2 separate regions of the Homo sapiens genome follow, and region 2 is linked to region 1. The links come from fine-mapping of genetic effects on gene expression. Tissue or cell type: subcutaneous fat. Region 1 holds a variant in brackets; the other region holds the start of a gene. All regions are shown on one strand. Distances are between the middles of the regions.

What was found. PIP is the estimated chance that this variant, and not a neighbour inherited with it, causes the effect.
Region 2: LHX4 starts here. The variant in region 1 is fine-mapped to the expression of LHX4 in subcutaneous fat (GTEx, PIP above 0.99). The same link has a PIP of 0.9 or more in fibroblasts.

The regions. Positions count from the first base shown.
Region 1 is chr1:180,266,529-180,274,703 of GRCh38, reverse strand. It overlaps LHX4 (LIM homeobox 4), which reads right to left. Exons shown (of 6, transcript NM_033343.4): 3 at 8,110-8,175; 4 at 3,170-3,324; 5 at 2,698-2,869; 6 at 1-519. The coding sequence ends at 125. LHX4-AS1 (LHX4 antisense RNA 1) reads left to right here and starts at 23. Exons shown (of 5, transcript NR_037642.1): 1 at 23-53; 2 at 592-767; 3 at 1,306-1,366; 4 at 2,012-2,091; 5 at 2,733-5,041. It also overlaps a transcript of ACBD6 not described here. RefSeq lists enhancers at 2,263-3,190, 5,716-6,010. The variant A/G (reference allele first, on the strand shown) is at 3,733.
Region 2 is chr1:180,226,710-180,234,884 of GRCh38, reverse strand. LHX4 (LIM homeobox 4) reads right to left here and starts at 4,621. Exons shown (of 6, transcript NM_033343.4): 1 at 4,280-4,621. The coding sequence starts at 4,355. RefSeq lists a silencer at 5,051-5,180.

The DNA of each region.
Region 1 (8,175 bases):
CTTCCATTGAAAATAATGGAAATTCACATTGGCGTACTTTCGATCCTTAAAAGGCAAGTCTCTTTTGATCCTTGAAGATATTCTCTCAAGCCAGGGGGGCAGGTAGGGTGGGGAGGAGAGAAGTTTAAAAAGGAGGATGATCCATTTCATCGAGCCAAGAGCCTGGGCTAGTTGGAAAGTCGGGATAGCCTACACTGCTTCCTGTGGAGATGTCAGAGGTGGGTCCCCCAGCCATGGCTCTCAGCGTCTGGCTTACTCCCTGCCCTGCATGCGCAATGATGCCCAAATTACTGTCCACCGTGTAATCCAGCCCATTGAGCAAAGGAGCGTGGGATGGCAGGGACGATATGGAGGATGGAGACTGGGGGATTCCATAGGGGCTCCCATCCCTCAAGTCCTGATAGGATTGTCCTGTCCCGTCCATGGAGAAGCTCCCATTCATTAACTGTCCGCCTGTAACGTCCCCCACGTTGCCATAAATCCTATTGGTGTGGCCAAGTTCTGAGAGAATTTGATCCTCTGTGGACAAAAGAACGGAGATTTATTGTCAGCTGCCAGGACTCTGATGGTCCCCTGCTCTTCACAACCTAGGAACACACATGACCAGGAAAGATGCCCAAGGATGGCAGCTGCCTTGCAGCCAAGCATGGGTCAGACACACCAATATGGCAGCCTGATATCCAGAGGCCAACCCAGGCCAAGGAGAAAAACAAGAAACACCTGCAAAGACTAAATTCCCAGGTCCCAGAAGGATGGACAAATGTTTGGTGAGCTCGTTGGTCCCTTGTGGCTCGTGTACTAATACTCTGGCTACACTGAGGAGGATGAATGCCTAAGGCTGGGTGGGTCAGATGTCTCCACATCACAAATGGAAACTACATGCTGACAACATTTACCCTGAAAGCTTTCAAGCTGAGAAAGGGCTTGGTTTAGTTGATTGGGAAGCAAGCAGGCCCATATGGTCAGGGAAGCTGAGGACCACTCTTAGACATCTGTACAAAATCCTTCTGGTCTATCTGGAAGAGAGGTTCAATATCAAAGGACTTGGTTTCTGTCTGTATTCAATAAGCTCTTCACTGGGGACAAAGAATTGACTTGATTAAGGCAAATGAACCTTCTTTTTTCTTAAAGAATTTCATTAAGGGGATCTAATGGAATCTTTGCCACTTGAAAGAATTTCTCTCTCCAACAGAGGTGAGCAGTTTTAGTCTTTGAGAAATTATTCCCAGAGAAACCAATGATAGGTCAGCCCAGGGACCCACCTGCACCCAACAGAAATGAGCTTAACAATCCAGTATGTTCTAGGTGTTGACTTCAACAGCCCAGATGAGATTGACTTTCCCAATCCTGCCAAGAAGCCTAAAAGGTGAGTATTAGTCCCATGAGCTGTCCCCAAGGCCTCACGGGCCCTGTGTTCTCAGAGGAGGCTGCCCTCTAGGGCTCAGCTGACCTCTGGGCTGAACTAGAGTCCTCCCAGGGCATCGTTGTCCTGGCAGGCAACTTGTTCCATCCTCTGTCCCACAAACTTCCTTTTCTATTTCCACCTGGGCCTCTGCACCAATCCCTAAATAAGGCCTCCCCAGACTAGACTTCAACACCCCATCCCTTCTGAGGCCTGCCCCCCATTCCCCTTATGAAAAAACATGGTGGGGGGAGCTCATGCTCTTTAAAGGGAGCAGGAAGATGAAGGCTCCACTCCATTGTCAAATGGCCATGAGTTAGCCTTTTCCCTATACCTGTCATCCCAAATGACCAGGGCCCTCTGCGGGAGCCACACGCTCCCTGTGGGAACGATCATGCCTTCCAGGTATACAAATGTGCCAGGCTTTCCCCAAGCACATCCACAGTTGGTTGTGTTCATTGATCCCCACAACGCAGTGAGATGGGCAAAGATATGGTATTCCTCTTGGGAATACTGGGGCTCAAGAGAAGTGAATCGATTTGACAGAGCTGCACTGGAAACCAGGTCTCTGATCGCCAGTTGAGTACTCTTCCCTTTCCCCCTCCGCAGAAGACCTTCCACATTTGAGAACTCAGTACCTGAGAACAGTTATGATTCTTTGCAAACAACCTGAGGATTCATAACATGCAGTAATTTACAATTTTGCTGATGCATGAATTTGAATATAGTGCATGCTGCAAAGCTTGTGTGCAGGGGACAGAATGAAGTGAGTGGTGGGGAAAGGGATTTCGGAAGTGAAGCCAGTTCCCCATCTCACATGCACTCACAGTACTGATTTCCCAGGAAAAAACCTGTGGAGCATGACCTCCCCACCACCAGGACTGGAGGAAGGGGTGGCTCTAGGGGACTATGGGAGTAGGCCAGTGTCCCAGCAAAGGGGACAAAGATGGGAGAGGGGCTAGGGGCACAAGGCTGGAACCCAGTCATCTGTTCATAGCTGTGTGGGCTGATGAGGGAGGCCCCAGTCAGCAGGAGGGGAGGGGAGACCTTGGGGCCACAGGACGGGGCCTGGCCCATCCCAGCTTCCAGACCTCAGCAATCTTGTTTCCTACTCCTGTCCCATGGTAAAGGGCCACTACCATTTCCCCCACCCTTCACTGCAAGTCTTAAGGAAAAGCCTGTGTTCAGGAGGGAGTTGCCAAGGCCTCAAGAAAGATCCCTCCTGAGTGCCAGGGATTACAGATTCCCAGGGGACTTTCCTAAGGCCTCGGCCTGGCCCCTCCAGCCCTGCTCACCTCGGAAGCTCAGCTCACTGTCACTAACCCCACAGTCCTCTGCAGAGCTCTCCTTCTCCTGCTTGCTGCTGCCCCGGCTCCTCTTGACGCTCTTATAGAACTGCCCCCAGCGGTGCCGCCCTGCATCCTTCTTCAGGCGTTTCTCTTTGGCCCTTCTGTTCTGAAACCAAACCTGCCACACAAGCACAAGGGACATACTCAGGGGGCGTCCACCACAAACCCAAAGCCCCCAGGACCCCCTAGGCGGGCGGCTGGAAGCAGACTGAAGCCTGAATGGAGCACAGGTCTGGGAGTGCGATGCGCCCCACCCCCTCTCCCCAGGTGGGCCTCAGAACTCTGTCTTCAGTTCTGGCAAAAGCCCTGGGGTCAAGCCCTGAGCCCAACCACCCGTGAGCTGATGTCACTCAGGATACCTTCCACCCCTGTCCCGGGCCTGGGATCCCCGGAGGGCACAGGAGTGCTGGCATCTCACCTGTACGACCCTCATGTCCAGGCCTGTCTCTGAGGACAGCTGCTCCCTCACGTGCCGGGCAGGCTTGGGGGAGTTCTTGTATGCATTCTTTAATGTCTCCAGCTGCTTGGCTGTGATGGTGGTCCGGGGCCGCTTAGCTCCAGCCTCTGAGTCATCTGCAAGGAAAAACCACTGCTTACTGGCTTCGGCCTATCTGCAGCAGCTGCGCCTCCTCCCACACCCTCCCTTCCATCCTTTCTGCACCTAAGCCTGCCTGCTGTAGGCAGGACAGCGCGAGGCACAGGGGACATCAGAGTGGAGAGGTCCCCACTCTCATGGCACTGACTCCTGCACCACGGGCCTTCCCAAGCCACTGAAAAGTGAGGACAGCAGTCCTTTCTCTGCTCAGCTCCCTGCCTCAACCCTCCCCTGCCAGCCCAGCTGCACAGAAGTCTCATCAGATTGAATGTACCCAATTCCACACGTCCCTGTCATGACAAACACTCTGCTCACACATCCTCATGAGTTCTTGCCAGAGCTGTGAAGGTGAACAGCCAGGTTGAAGTCATGTTCAAAGTCGCCCC[A/G]GATGCCCTCCCCTCTGTCTCATCAGGAGTCTCCCATTTCCCCACAGCCATGTCACCTTTGCCCTGGCGTCGCTGGGCTCACAGCCAGGGGTGAGCTTGCACACCCAACAGTGTCTAAGCAGGTTTCTAAACTATAGGTCAGAACCCACTCGTGGGCTGTAAAGTCACCTTAGTGGATCAAAACTAAAACAGGAAATCAGATGAAGAGAATGGGATGGAATGGCAAGATCATTTCATTAAACTTTAGTTTTTATTGTATAAATATGTGTACTGAGATGAAATGTAAAATGAGTTTTACTGTGGATTGTAGTCAAAATTTTTTGAGAAAACTAGTCTAAGGAATGTTCTGGGCAACACACTGACTGATCAACACAAAGTCCTAGACAGATTTTGAGTGAACAAGCTCAAGTTCCTGTTAGTTAAAGTCTGGTTTGTTCCATTCAAAGTCAGGTACAGAGAGAGGCGCGTGCGTGTGTTCGGAAGCACAGGTGAATGTAAAGGTTTGTTTCCTCTCCCAGCACTTAGGCATACTGCCCTTTTCTCCACAGTGCCCCTGGAGGACACACGGAATAAAGTCAGCAGCTGGCCTGGGCAGCTCTGCTCTCTGTGCTTGCTCACCTGTGTGCCCCAGAAGGTGTCTCTGTGACATTCCTGACTTCCTCTCTGTCTTTTCTCCTTTCTTTCCATTCAAGAAAACCCTCTCTTAGAAACAATAGTAGCCAACATGTGTTAGCACCTACCATGTGCTGGTGTTGACTAAGGACTTTATATGCATTCGGTCCTCACAATCTACAAGGCTCTCCCTGGAGTCAGCAGACCTGGCTTCAGTGTTCTTGATGAGTGAGTGACTTGGGCCAGTAACTCACTTCCCCCTTGGAAGTCCAGAGGGCAACACGGCCTGCCCTGATCTTGGGAGGCACTAGAGGAATGAAGCAGCTGTGCAGCCAGGACATGTGTGTACACAGTGAGGGGGGACACACCCGTGCCTTCCCTTCTCCTCGGGCTGTTTTCTTCTCTCACGTGGCCACTGTCATCCCGGAACTACTGTGGCCCAACTCCCTCCCTGAAGCCCTGAACCCGAAGGGTAGGGATTCCGGAGCCCCTGCCACAGAGACTACACTACTTAGAGAGTCATTCCAAAAGACAAAGGGGAACCTCCAAAATGCCTTCCTTTTCATTCTGAGGAGTCTGTCCCTTCTGTGCATATTTATAGTCTACACGGGAGTGTCTGATGCAACTTTGAATTATGCAAATGGGAAATAGTGCACTTGTGTACAATCTTTATATTAAAAAATGTGAAATAATGCAATCACCAAAAATGTTTTAATTTCTCGAGAATCACTTAATTTCAAAATAGCTTGGCCTACGGAATTATAAATTCTTTTCACCACAGCCAGATGGTAGCGCCACTGGGATAGACCCGTCATCCTGGTTGGTGGCCCGCTGGTTCGGCACTGCTACACACACAGGATTTTCTTCTTGCAATGATGGGGACTAATATGCTGTTATTTTAACATTCACTGTTATTATAATTTAAAATCTTTTTTATATCCCATAACAATGTCATCCAAGTATTCATTAAGTAGCAGTGGCAGTGCTCGTGCTGAAAAATGTACCCAAAAATCAATAACTTTGGTACGGAAGTTAAATGTGACAAAACGCTATGAGGAAGGCCAAGGGAGCCCATGATACCCTGGGCTGTTAATTTAGGAGAGAGCGTTCTGCAAGGTATTCAAGATAATGCTGAGAAAATAAAAAGTAGCATTAAGGCAAAGATACACTTCACTGGTTATGGATTTATGTGCTCTCAGAATATACCACCCCCCCCCCCACACACTCTACATTAATTCCTACAGGAAAATTAGTCTTAAAATATGTTAGTTTTGAATGATGCAGGGTCTCCTAGAACTTGTCCCTGGCATAAAACGCAACCTCATTATATTGAAAATGCAAATATCCAGGGAGACGGAACAAGTGAACAAAATCATTCACACTAAGGTGCAAGTAACTGCTCTGAGATCCTTTGTTTAGCTAATGGGAGGGAACTGTAAGCCTGCAGGAGGGCTGAGAGTAGCAAGGAGGAATTAAAACAACCTGAAAAGACAGCCAGGCATTCTGCAGTGGACAGAACTCCCCGCTGCTCCAAGGATCACCGATTGCCCAGGACAGAGGAGCCCTGCCTTGCTCACAGCCAGGGTGGGGTCAGGAAAGGACCCGGGGAACAGGCCAGAAATACTGTGTAACATTCCGCTGCTTTAAAACCTCAAGCACACCTCACCTCCCTGTTTGCACTTCTCCTCCACGTCAGTCTCTTATTTCACATCCCATTTCACAAGCCTCATCCTATTTAAACCTCAGGAAAACAGCCCTACGTGGCAGATGCTATGATCCTCCATAGACAGCTGAGAAGCCGAGGGTCAGCCAGTTCTACAACTTGCCAGGAGATCTCCCTGTGTGGGGGGATGCCCAGCCAGCTTCTGACAGCAAGTCCGGCATCTTCCATCATCCTGCAGAGGTCTGCTGTGGTGCAAATATTCCTCGATAAAACTGTGAGCACCACAATGTCATTCCCACCTCCCCAGCCAGATTCTGACCAATCTACATCTGTTTCTCTTGTCTCTTGAACCACCCACAACATCAGGAGATGCTGAGCTGAGAGTGCTCAGAGTCCAAATGAGGCCTCTGATGAGAACCAGCTGCAGGCCGGGGAGGTCGTGCCATCTTAGTATCTCTGATGAACGGCACTAGACTTCCAAAGGTGTCTTGGTATCTCTGAGTCCATCTGCTGTGATGGTTCATCCCTGACAAGTTGCCCTAATCTCCCATGACATCACAATTGACTTCAAGGCAATAGCATGGAGTGAGTTTTAAGAAACCAGAGCAGATTAGTACATTGCAGGCAAAGAGCCTTGGGATGGGTTTGCAGAGGCCCCAGGTCTCTGGAGGAAGGAGGTCAAAGGCCTCTGTCCACCCTGAAAGGCCAGAGCTGTGGGGGTGGTGGGAGGGAAGGTCCTCAAAGAGACAGGAAGCCCTGCCCACTCCTGCCATGGACCAAAGCCAAACCCAGCTCCAGCTGGCTCACCTAAAGGGCCCTTATGAATCCCCTCTGCTTCCTCACCACCACAATCCCCTTATTTTATACTGTGTTCAATGAACAAAAAACCAGTTTCTCCATTATTGATGAGATCTGTATAATATGTGTGTGGGCCCAGAAAAGATCTAGAAGGAGATACATAAAATTGTTGTTAATTTTTTTTCTCATCAAGCCCAGAGCTGTCAACAAGAGCCGTTTTTGCACAGTAACACCCTGAGTTGATCAAAATTCTAGTCAAAGGCCAAGGAACTTGATGTTTTGTGCGTTCACACCTCTGAGGTTATCATGTTGGGTTTGGCCAAATCCCAAATTCAGAGCCAGGGCCTGACCCCACGACCATGTGGGTGCATCTGGGAGTGAGAAGCCAGAGGTAGGGCTGCAGGAATAAAAGTGTCCACCTTGGCTTTGCGAGGGGAGCATGGGGAATGTGTTGTTCTGGGCTCTACGCTGGAAAGTCCCCGGGCTGCCCAAGCGCATGGCATGTAGGGCGAGAGCCGCTGCCGCCAGGCCAAGCTAGGCCTTTCCAGGCGTGGCTGCTAAATGCGGGACCTGACTTCGGCCTCCACCATGCAGAGCTCCTGCTGCCACCGTGGGCAGTGGCCCTGCAGTGGTTGTGGTGAAGGGGGTGGGGGCAGCTATATTGAAGTGGGTGGAGGGAGCTATATTGCTGAGACGGAGCCTCCCTGAATCTGGCATGTGTCCTGCCTCTTCTTTTAGCACTCACTGGGCACTTGCAGAAACTCCAGGAGGCCCTGCCCTAGAGGAGCCCACAGTCTGCGAGGCGAACAGAACACAATTAACAGACAGATGTATGAAGTGTGCAGAGGCCAGTGCTGGGCTCTCACCGACGGCCTTTGAGGCAGGGGCTGCTGAGAGGTCCATGTGCACCCTGATGTGCAAAACTAAGCGGCAGCCCCACGTGTCCAATACAGACCAAGCTCCCAGCCACCCCTCAGCACCCCAGCCTCCACCCAGGGAAGGAGGCCACCACCATGGTAACAACCAGGTTCTTGGCTGCTTCTGAGCCTACCATGGAGACAGGCAGGCTCTCAGGAACCATGGCTGGATGAACACTTCCATGAAGCCGGCGAGTGCTAACGGCCGGGGAGGTGTTCAGCATTTACTCTCAGTGTGGAGATCTGGGACGCTTCTCAGAGGTGGCGGTGCATGAGTAGGGCTCTGAGGGATGGGCAGGTGGGACGCCATGAGAAGGGCACCTCAGGCAGAGGGCGTGGCCCAAACAAAGGCCTGGAGAGGGGACCATGCGGGGCCATGCTGCTTACCGTTCTGCTTGGCTGTCTCGTAGTCTTCCTTGCACACCAGCCGCCCGTCCTCCATGAGGTAGAATT
Region 2 (8,175 bases), 40 kb after region 1:
GGTCGTAGCGAGGTCATGTGGGTCGCGCTCCCAGACCCTAGGACGCCACTCCTGCTCAGCCCTGCGTAGCCCCGCCTAGCTCTGGTTTTCCACGAGCCCGGACCTCGGCCAAGAGAGGAAATAAACTTGAGTTAGGTCCTGCTTCTTCTCAGTCCCGACTTTACGACTTCCCGGGACACTGCGGACTGCTCAATGCAGACCTTTGCCCCTCACCTGCTGCACCTGCGTGCTCCGTGTCCGGCTTTAACAGTTAATTCCGCATGCGGAGCGCACTGGGACAGCGGCTTTCCAAGCTTCCCTCCGTGCTAACGGCCCTCTCAGATAACAAGGCCCTGGAAAGGAGGAGGCCGGAGCCCTCTCGCCCCTTGGGAGTCCTCAGCCATCCGCTGTCCCAAGCGGGGCGCTGCCGCGCTTACCCGGGTTTCTCCAAACTCCCTTCTTTGTGGTACACAGCTCTGGCCAGGGGCTGGAACGGGATCCTAGCAGTTAGGACATCGGAACCCCCAACCCATCAGGCCCGAATCGGCCGGCGGGGACAGCTGACCTCATCTGTAAAAATTGTCTCCTGCCTGAGAATATATTCTCGCGACGCAGGGAGGGAGGTCTATGGTGCCTACAGCTGCTATATCGGAATGTTCGGAATATGATAGAATCTCAATCTATTATATATATATATATATATATATATATATATATATATATATATATATATATAATTTGTGTGTGTTGTGTGTGTCTGTTTCTCGCACTAGGAGACAAGGCAGGAATGGAAAGAAGAGCGAACAGCACCAGCGTTTGAGTGAACTCCTGTCTTGGACAGTGAATCCATCTCACCCCCTTAAGAAATGTCCTGCAAGAAGGACAGTCAACAACCCCGGGGACTCGGATCTGCAACTCGACCTGCGCTGGGACATTACCCCACGCACCCCGGAGGAGCCCCAGGAGAGGAAGTCCCAGGGAAAACCTTTACCCCGACCCTACCAAACACAAAATAAAATACCTTTTTCCTACAGCTTCGGGGTTCGCCAGAGCTTGCCGGAAGCATTTTAGGAGACAAGGAGGGGGACAGAGACCCCCAGGCCTGCATTCCAATTACCACCCCCAGCGGAGACCCCGCGGGGCTCCTCCTTCTCCCGTGCGGGCTGCCCTCTCTCCCGCCAGCGATCCGGGCGGCGGGCTTCCGTCGTCCTTTCCCTCGGTGCCTGGGGAGACTACATGGCAGATGGGTCAAAACCGAGGCGGATAAAACGCCCCACCTTCCTATATGCCTCGCTCTTTTCCGCGTCTCCTCAGAGGGCATGGCCGGCCAGCAGGGCCCCGACGCGTGGAGGGACTGCTGAGGTCCGCGGGGAGAGTTTTGGAGGCGGCTCGGAAGGCTCTCGCCGTACCCGTACCCAACACGGCCCCGGGTCAGGCGCTGTGAGGATTCGGATCTCGACGTCCCTACAGCCCGGAGGGAGGTGGCGGGGACGAGCTGTCGGTGCGGGCCGTAGGGACAGCTGTAGGGCTGTCGGAGCGACGAGGCCCGCACCGGGGGCCGCGCGACCAAGGCGCGGTAAAAAACCAGGAGGGCTACGGCGCGAACTGCTAAGTCCGCACGGGAGCCTGCGGGGGCGGGAGGCCGGGACAGAGTGGCGAGGAAGAGGCCAAGTCTGGAGCAAGACCAGAGATGAGAGAGAAATTATTACATCATTTGGAAACGTTTTCCTAAAGGGTATGCCCCTCACCCATCCCCAAATAAGCAAAGGAATAGTCCAGCTGCCGCCGAAATAAGCTGGATTTAAATCACTTCTTCTAAAATGCCCCTAGAGGGGAGGGCACTAGAGGCACCGAGCTTGGGGACACCTAGACCTGCGTCCCCAAGTGCTCCATTCGTGGTGACTCCATGTGATGAAGAGGCAAACATGTCTGTGTTGAGAGGGAAACCCTTCTAGTTGGCGACTGGAGGGACCCCTGTGGGAGAGCGTTTCTTTTGTCTCCCCTCCTCTAGGGTTTAAGAGCCTACTGTCCCGGAAGGCCCAAGGGTGTGCCCCACAACCCCTCGAGCTTCCCCCCTTCTTAGGCCACTGGGCCCAGTCCCAAGAAAACTAATAGTTGTGTATATGTGGGTGATGGGGACCTATCCCGCGGTCCCAGCACCAACAGCCTAACAGCCAGAGGCCAGATGTGCTGCAAGGGAGGCTACAATCCATTCACATTCCAAGAGGAAATAAAAGCTGGATCCAGAAGTCTTCAGGGAGTGGGCCCCTCAATTTTGGCCGATGCCTCCTCCAACCAAGGTCACGAAACTCGGACAAAGGGAGGACTGACCACCCCCTCTAGATTAGACATTGCCTCCCTGGGCCACCCTGGGGGGGTGGGTGTGGAAGTTCCTTTGTACACCTCAAGTTTTCCACAGTGTGAACCTAGACTCAGCCTTGGCAAACTGTAGCTCTGAAGGTGAGTTCTGGGCATTTTAGCAAAGCGACTCCCTGACGTCGAACATCAAAGTTGTCTCTGAACAGGGAAGGCAAAAAGTGAGACAATCAGAGTGTCACTCATCACAAGAAAGGCCGTCAGAGCAGAGACCATCGTCCTTCATTGGGGTCCCAACAGACAGGTCACCTACGGACCACAGCCATGAAAGCACAGACGTACTGGGTACCAAGGACACTAGTAACACACACACACCCTTCCCCCACTCATGCAGTCTCCTCACTCGCGCAGAGCTACAAGCAGCTTAAGGACTCGGTGCACCTTTGCAGGGTTTCTGTTTCCGTCTTTGCAGGGGCTGAGAACCCACTCTGTCCCTGCCTGTGTGCGGGGTGTGGGGCGTAGTGAATCTCCAATGCCTTCTATGAAAACATCTTAGCGGTAAACTCCCCAAGGCTCAACACAGACGTGGAACTGATTGCCGGCAGTTGACACGAAAACACTCAAAGAATAACTGTAGAATACAGCCAAGAAACAATCTAAATAGGCTTGGATGAAGCTATTCTTTTCTAGTCCCTTCTCAAAAACTTCCCAGGGAAGCCTACGGTACGCCTGCCCTCCGAAGGATCGCCGGACAGAAACCCTGCCATGGAAACCCGAGGCGCAGGAGGGCGCGCTCGTGCGCCCTAGTTTGTAGGTAGTCACCATCCCTGGATGAGCCGGCCCTTACTTAAAGTAAACCCCGAAGATGTAGCTACCGCACCACTAAAGAAGTCGCAGGCGGAAGTACAACCCCTTGGCAAGCGGAGCGAGGAACTCCTTGGTCTCTCCAGGGTGCCCGGGGCGCCCTGCTGAGCGTGCAAGCCACAGGGGCAGGACTCTCCCGGCGCTTGTCGCGCGCGCGCGCGCGCGCGCGCGACGACTGGGCACCTGTTCTGGCCTCTGCACAGATTCCCTCTCGGGGACTCTCGCTCAGGAGTGAAGCACAGAGACGGATTCCCTTCGGGAAAATCTCTGCGCGCGCACACCCATACACACAGAGAGAGACTTGGGGATAAACACGCCGCGAGCTCCGGCTGTCTCGCTAATTTCGGGCGCGGGAAGAAAGCGGGCGGGCAGGCTAGCAAAGCTCCCACACACCCCCGTCTCTACCCCTCCAAACCCGAGCCACCCTGAGCACCTGCCCTCGCGTGCGCAAAGGCTGAACCCGGAATTCACAACTTGCGGTCGCTTCTCCCTCCCCTGCATTCCTAGGCTAGCTGGAATGCGCGAGCAGATTCCCTCACAAGGAGCAGTCAGTTTCCCGCGGCGCACGCGGCGGGCGCCGCGGGCAGTAGCGGCTGGGGACTCACCCGGCACGCACGCCCGGGGCGCGGGCCGCAGGGACTAAGAGTGTGGCCGGGGCTTCTCCGCCGCCAGCCCCAGGGGCGAGAGACGCGCTCTCCAACTTCCCGCCAGCTGGGGTGAAGTTGCACTAGCGGTCCTGCAAGCGCTGACCGTCACGCCGGCGAAAGAAGATTTGTGGGGACCACCCTCGCCCTCAGGCCTGGCCTACAGCTCGTACCCCTGGGTGTCCCCAAACAGCACTCTCCCCAGCGTTCCAAGAAAAGCCTTGGGCTGGAGATGCGGGGTTCGGTACTCGGCTCGCCTCAAGCATGATCCAGGAGGCGTTCACATTCGGCCCCAAACAGCCAAGAGCCTGGCCCCCTCAAACGCACTCTGGCTGGTGCCCCTGCCCTGTGACCGCCTCTGCGCCCCGGCCGCCAGCCCCTCCCGGCCCCTGAGCGGCGTCCGGCCCGCCCCGCAGCGGCTGAGGCTGCTAGCTGTCTTGTTAGAATTAAATCAGCGAGAAAGGGGGGTGTCTTACGTTGCATCGGCACACCTAGCATCTCCGGGAGCCCCTTGACAGCCCCTTCCGCGGGGACAGTCGCACTCTGCATCATCTCGGAGCGAAAGCCAGCGAGTCGCAGTCTACGGAGATCTCTCGCTCTCTCGCTCTAGCTCGATTCAGAAATTTCAAAATAATAATTAAAACCCCAAGCAGGCCGCTGGAGTCACGGTGGAAGCCGGGCCCTCCGCTTCTCAGGGAGGACTCCACAGGCTGGCCGGCCCCCTCCCCCCGCCAGTCCCCAGTCTGTTTCCAGTCCCTTTGATCTCGCTCTCCGGGGTTGGTGCACATCCCAGGTTGAGACGCTGTTGCTGCAGCTCTGGCTTTTTTCCTCTTCCCTCCCCCGCCCGCTCCTTCCCCCTCCCCCTCCACCCTTCGCGTGCCGGCCGCCCGGGAGGCCGCGGTCACCCGGGCGTTTTGATTCATTCACACTGCAGGAGCGGCCGTGACGTCGCTTTCCGCAGGGAGGCCCGCCCTTCGGCACATCCCCCAACCCGGCGGCGGGCAGCCGACCCCGGAGGGAGTGGGGGTCCCGGCGCCCCGAGTGAGGCCGGCGGGGCGGAGGGGGGCGGGGCGGCAGGGAGCGGGGCGGGGCCTCGCAAGCCGGCACCCCCCCCCCCTCCCCGCCTCCGCCTCCGCCTCCGCCCAGCCGTGGCGGGCTCGCGCCCTGGGTATAAATTCTGCTGATGGCCTGCCGCGGCAGCAGGTGGTCGGAGACGGCGGCGCCCTGGGTTTGCGGGTCTTCGTGGGTTCCAAGCCCGCGCGGCTCGTGTCCTCCTCACTCCTCCGTTCGGACCCAGGGGCGGGGCGGAGCCGAGCCGGGGCCGAGCGGGGCAGGCGGTCCGGAGGCCGGGGACGGGGCTGCGTCGCTGTGTCTTCGCCTTGCGCGCTCTCGGTCCCCGGCTTCGCTCCGCCGGACGGAGCGCGCTCCGTAACCGATGACTCCATCTATCTTCCTCCTCCTCTTTCCCCTGGCCAATTCCTTTCCTGCCGGCACTTCCCAGCCCCTGCTCTCTCTCCCCCGCGTCTGGCTGAGGCTGGGCCAAGGGACAGCCCGTACTCGGCCCGGAACGCGCGAGTCACGCGGCGGGCGGCGCCGGCCCGGGCTGGGGAAGGGGACCAGGGGCTGTGCGCGGAGGTGGCGGGACGCAGGCCCCCCGCGCGCGTCCCCGCAGACCGCGGCCTGCAGCCGGAGTCCGCACTTGCCTCCAGTTCCGCAGGGTAGGGGGCCCAAACCTCCCCGCGGCGGGGCCTCCCCGGCCGCCCTGCCACCAGTCGTCCAGCTCGGCCCTGTCTTAGGTCCCTAGAGCCCGCTCTGCCTCTCCGGCTGCCACCGCGGGTGCTTTGAACCATCCGCGACCTCGTGCGTGCAGGGCGGCAGTGAGCACACGGACGCCGGGGTTAACCAGCGAAAGGGCTTGCCATGCTTACTGTATTTACGAGATGCATGGACAGGTAGAGAAACGCTTAAAACAAATTCTCCTCAACGCGAGTTTCTGGCAGAAATACAACAGAAGGCCCAACGCTGGGACGAGGTCTCCTCTGACGCTCCATCAGGCGCTCGACGCCTCCGGGCTGCAGGCGCGGGAAGCCCACCCCGTCTGCCCCAAGACCCAGCCGCTCTCCTGCCCCCAGCCCCCACGGCATTTCCTTCCAGAAATGCAGACATACGTGTCCTTCCAGCCTAGTGGGGTTCAGCTTAGGCGGGAAGGGGGACTGTGTGCCCTCCCCAGCCTTCCAGAACCTTCCCTGCTGTTTCCCCTGGTGTCATCTCCAAACAAGGGACACCTGCTCACCTTTAAGGGAGGAGCATGGGGCGGGGGAGAATGGCCTGGTCGTCTGCGCTGCTTAGAATTTGTCTCCAATGAGGTCACAGTGACTTTTGTGTGTCCTGGTACTGGGTTGGCATCATCTCTTCCCTTGTTTACCTGCGAGGTGACTCCGCGCGCGAGACAATATACACAAGAAGAAAAAAGCAAAAGAACCCAGTGACATTTTTAGTGTTTACCAAAATGTGTTCTATAGAAATATAACTAGTAAGCAAACACGGGGAAACGCCAGCCTCATTTGCAGTGAAAAACACGCAAGACAAAACAACACGTGCACAGCTTTTTCTGTTTGTGAGATGCCCGACGCGCGGGAGGGGCATCCTAGAGTTCAGGACTGGCGAAAGGGGCTTGGACACTCACCAATACTGCTGGGTGCTTATAAACTCTTAACATCCGTTTGGAAAGAAATTTGGCAATATGTATCAAACTCATAAATTTTTCATACCCTTTAGTTTATGTAGTACTTTTGAATGTCTGTTCCACGGAAATAATCTAGAATTTTTTATAAAAGTTTCATGCGTGAAAATGTTTATTACAGTATTATGTTTTGGAGAAAAATAACCTAAATAGCCAACAAAAGAAAAGTGGCTTAGGGAAGTAGATTAAATTGTTTGGTAGTATGTTATGGAATCATGGAAACCAATTATGAAACCCAATAACATGGGGATGCTTGTGAAATACTATTTTTTTTAAAAGCACAATGCAATAGCATAGGATTATAAATATGTAAAAATCTTAGTCAAATGTAAGGGCAATGATAATACCCATTGTTGGTTAGGCTGTGGGGAAATTAGAAAACAATTTCCTAGTGGGGATTGCAAAGAGGGGAAATGTCTTCTCAGGACGTTTTGGCTACAAATGTGATGCATTTGACCCAATCTCTATAGAAATTTATCCAAAGAAAATAATCAAGAATGTTTGTGAAGATGTAGTTACAAGGATGTTTATAAGGTTTTTAAAAGGGAAAACCTAAATATCCAACAATAGGGGATAGTAAATAAGTTACAGTAAATTATTAAGTAAAATGGAATGTTATGAAGTCTTAGAAATAATACAACAGAAGAATATTTAATGTAGAAAAGGGTTTGAGATTTATTAGGAAATGTGAAAAAAGAATATGAAGCGGTATGAACTTCAGGAACTTTTCTTAAAAAAAGCATAAACACTGTACACTTAAAAATGGTAAAGATGGTAAATTATATGTATATTTTACCTCAATAAAAAATTGTTTAGGAGGAGTAAAAAAAATGCCAAAGTGTAAAAGTGGTTATCTGTGCAGTGGATATTTTATTTTATTCTCTTCGCTTTTTTCAGTTTTCTCAATGAGCACATTATTTTATAAAGCAGAAAAAAACTAATAAAATGCTTTTTAAAATATTAGGGAAAAGGTAAGGAAAGATACCAAAATACTATTCAAAAGAATATTTGGAAAAAGGTATATTAGGGAGATGTATTATGGAATTTTTTCCTTTTTCTCTTTTCCAGATTTTCTGTAAAGTGATTATTTTTCAGTAACATTAGTAAAAGATAACATTCAAATGCAGTGAATGTAAAGCATATATAGTAATTACTTTTATAATTTAAAATTATATTTTAAAAATGCTCTCTGCAGCTCCTGCTTCTCTGATTTGAACCTGCTGGGGTCCTGCCCTTTTCCCATTGCATGTCACTAGCCTGTCAGTAGGTGAGGAACAGCCTTACTGTGGTGGGGACTTATCTCTGCCCAAGACTGATTCAGGGGATACCACTTTCACCTGTGTCGTTTGGCAGACAAGCCCAGGAAAGTCAGCTTAGCTCTCAGTTCTTGCACCTGTAAGCAGCAGCTCCAACATACCTTGCACCCCCATGCCCACACACACAGTGCAGCTCAGCCAATAAATGCCCTTTCCACATTCTGAGGCTTTTTTTTCTTTCTTTCTTTTTTTTTTTTTTTGAGACGGAGTCTCGCTCTGTCGCCCAAGCTGGAGTGCAGTGGCGTGATCTCAGCCCACTGCAAGCTCCACCTCCTCCCGGGTTCACGCTATTCTGCCTCAGCCTCCCGAGCAG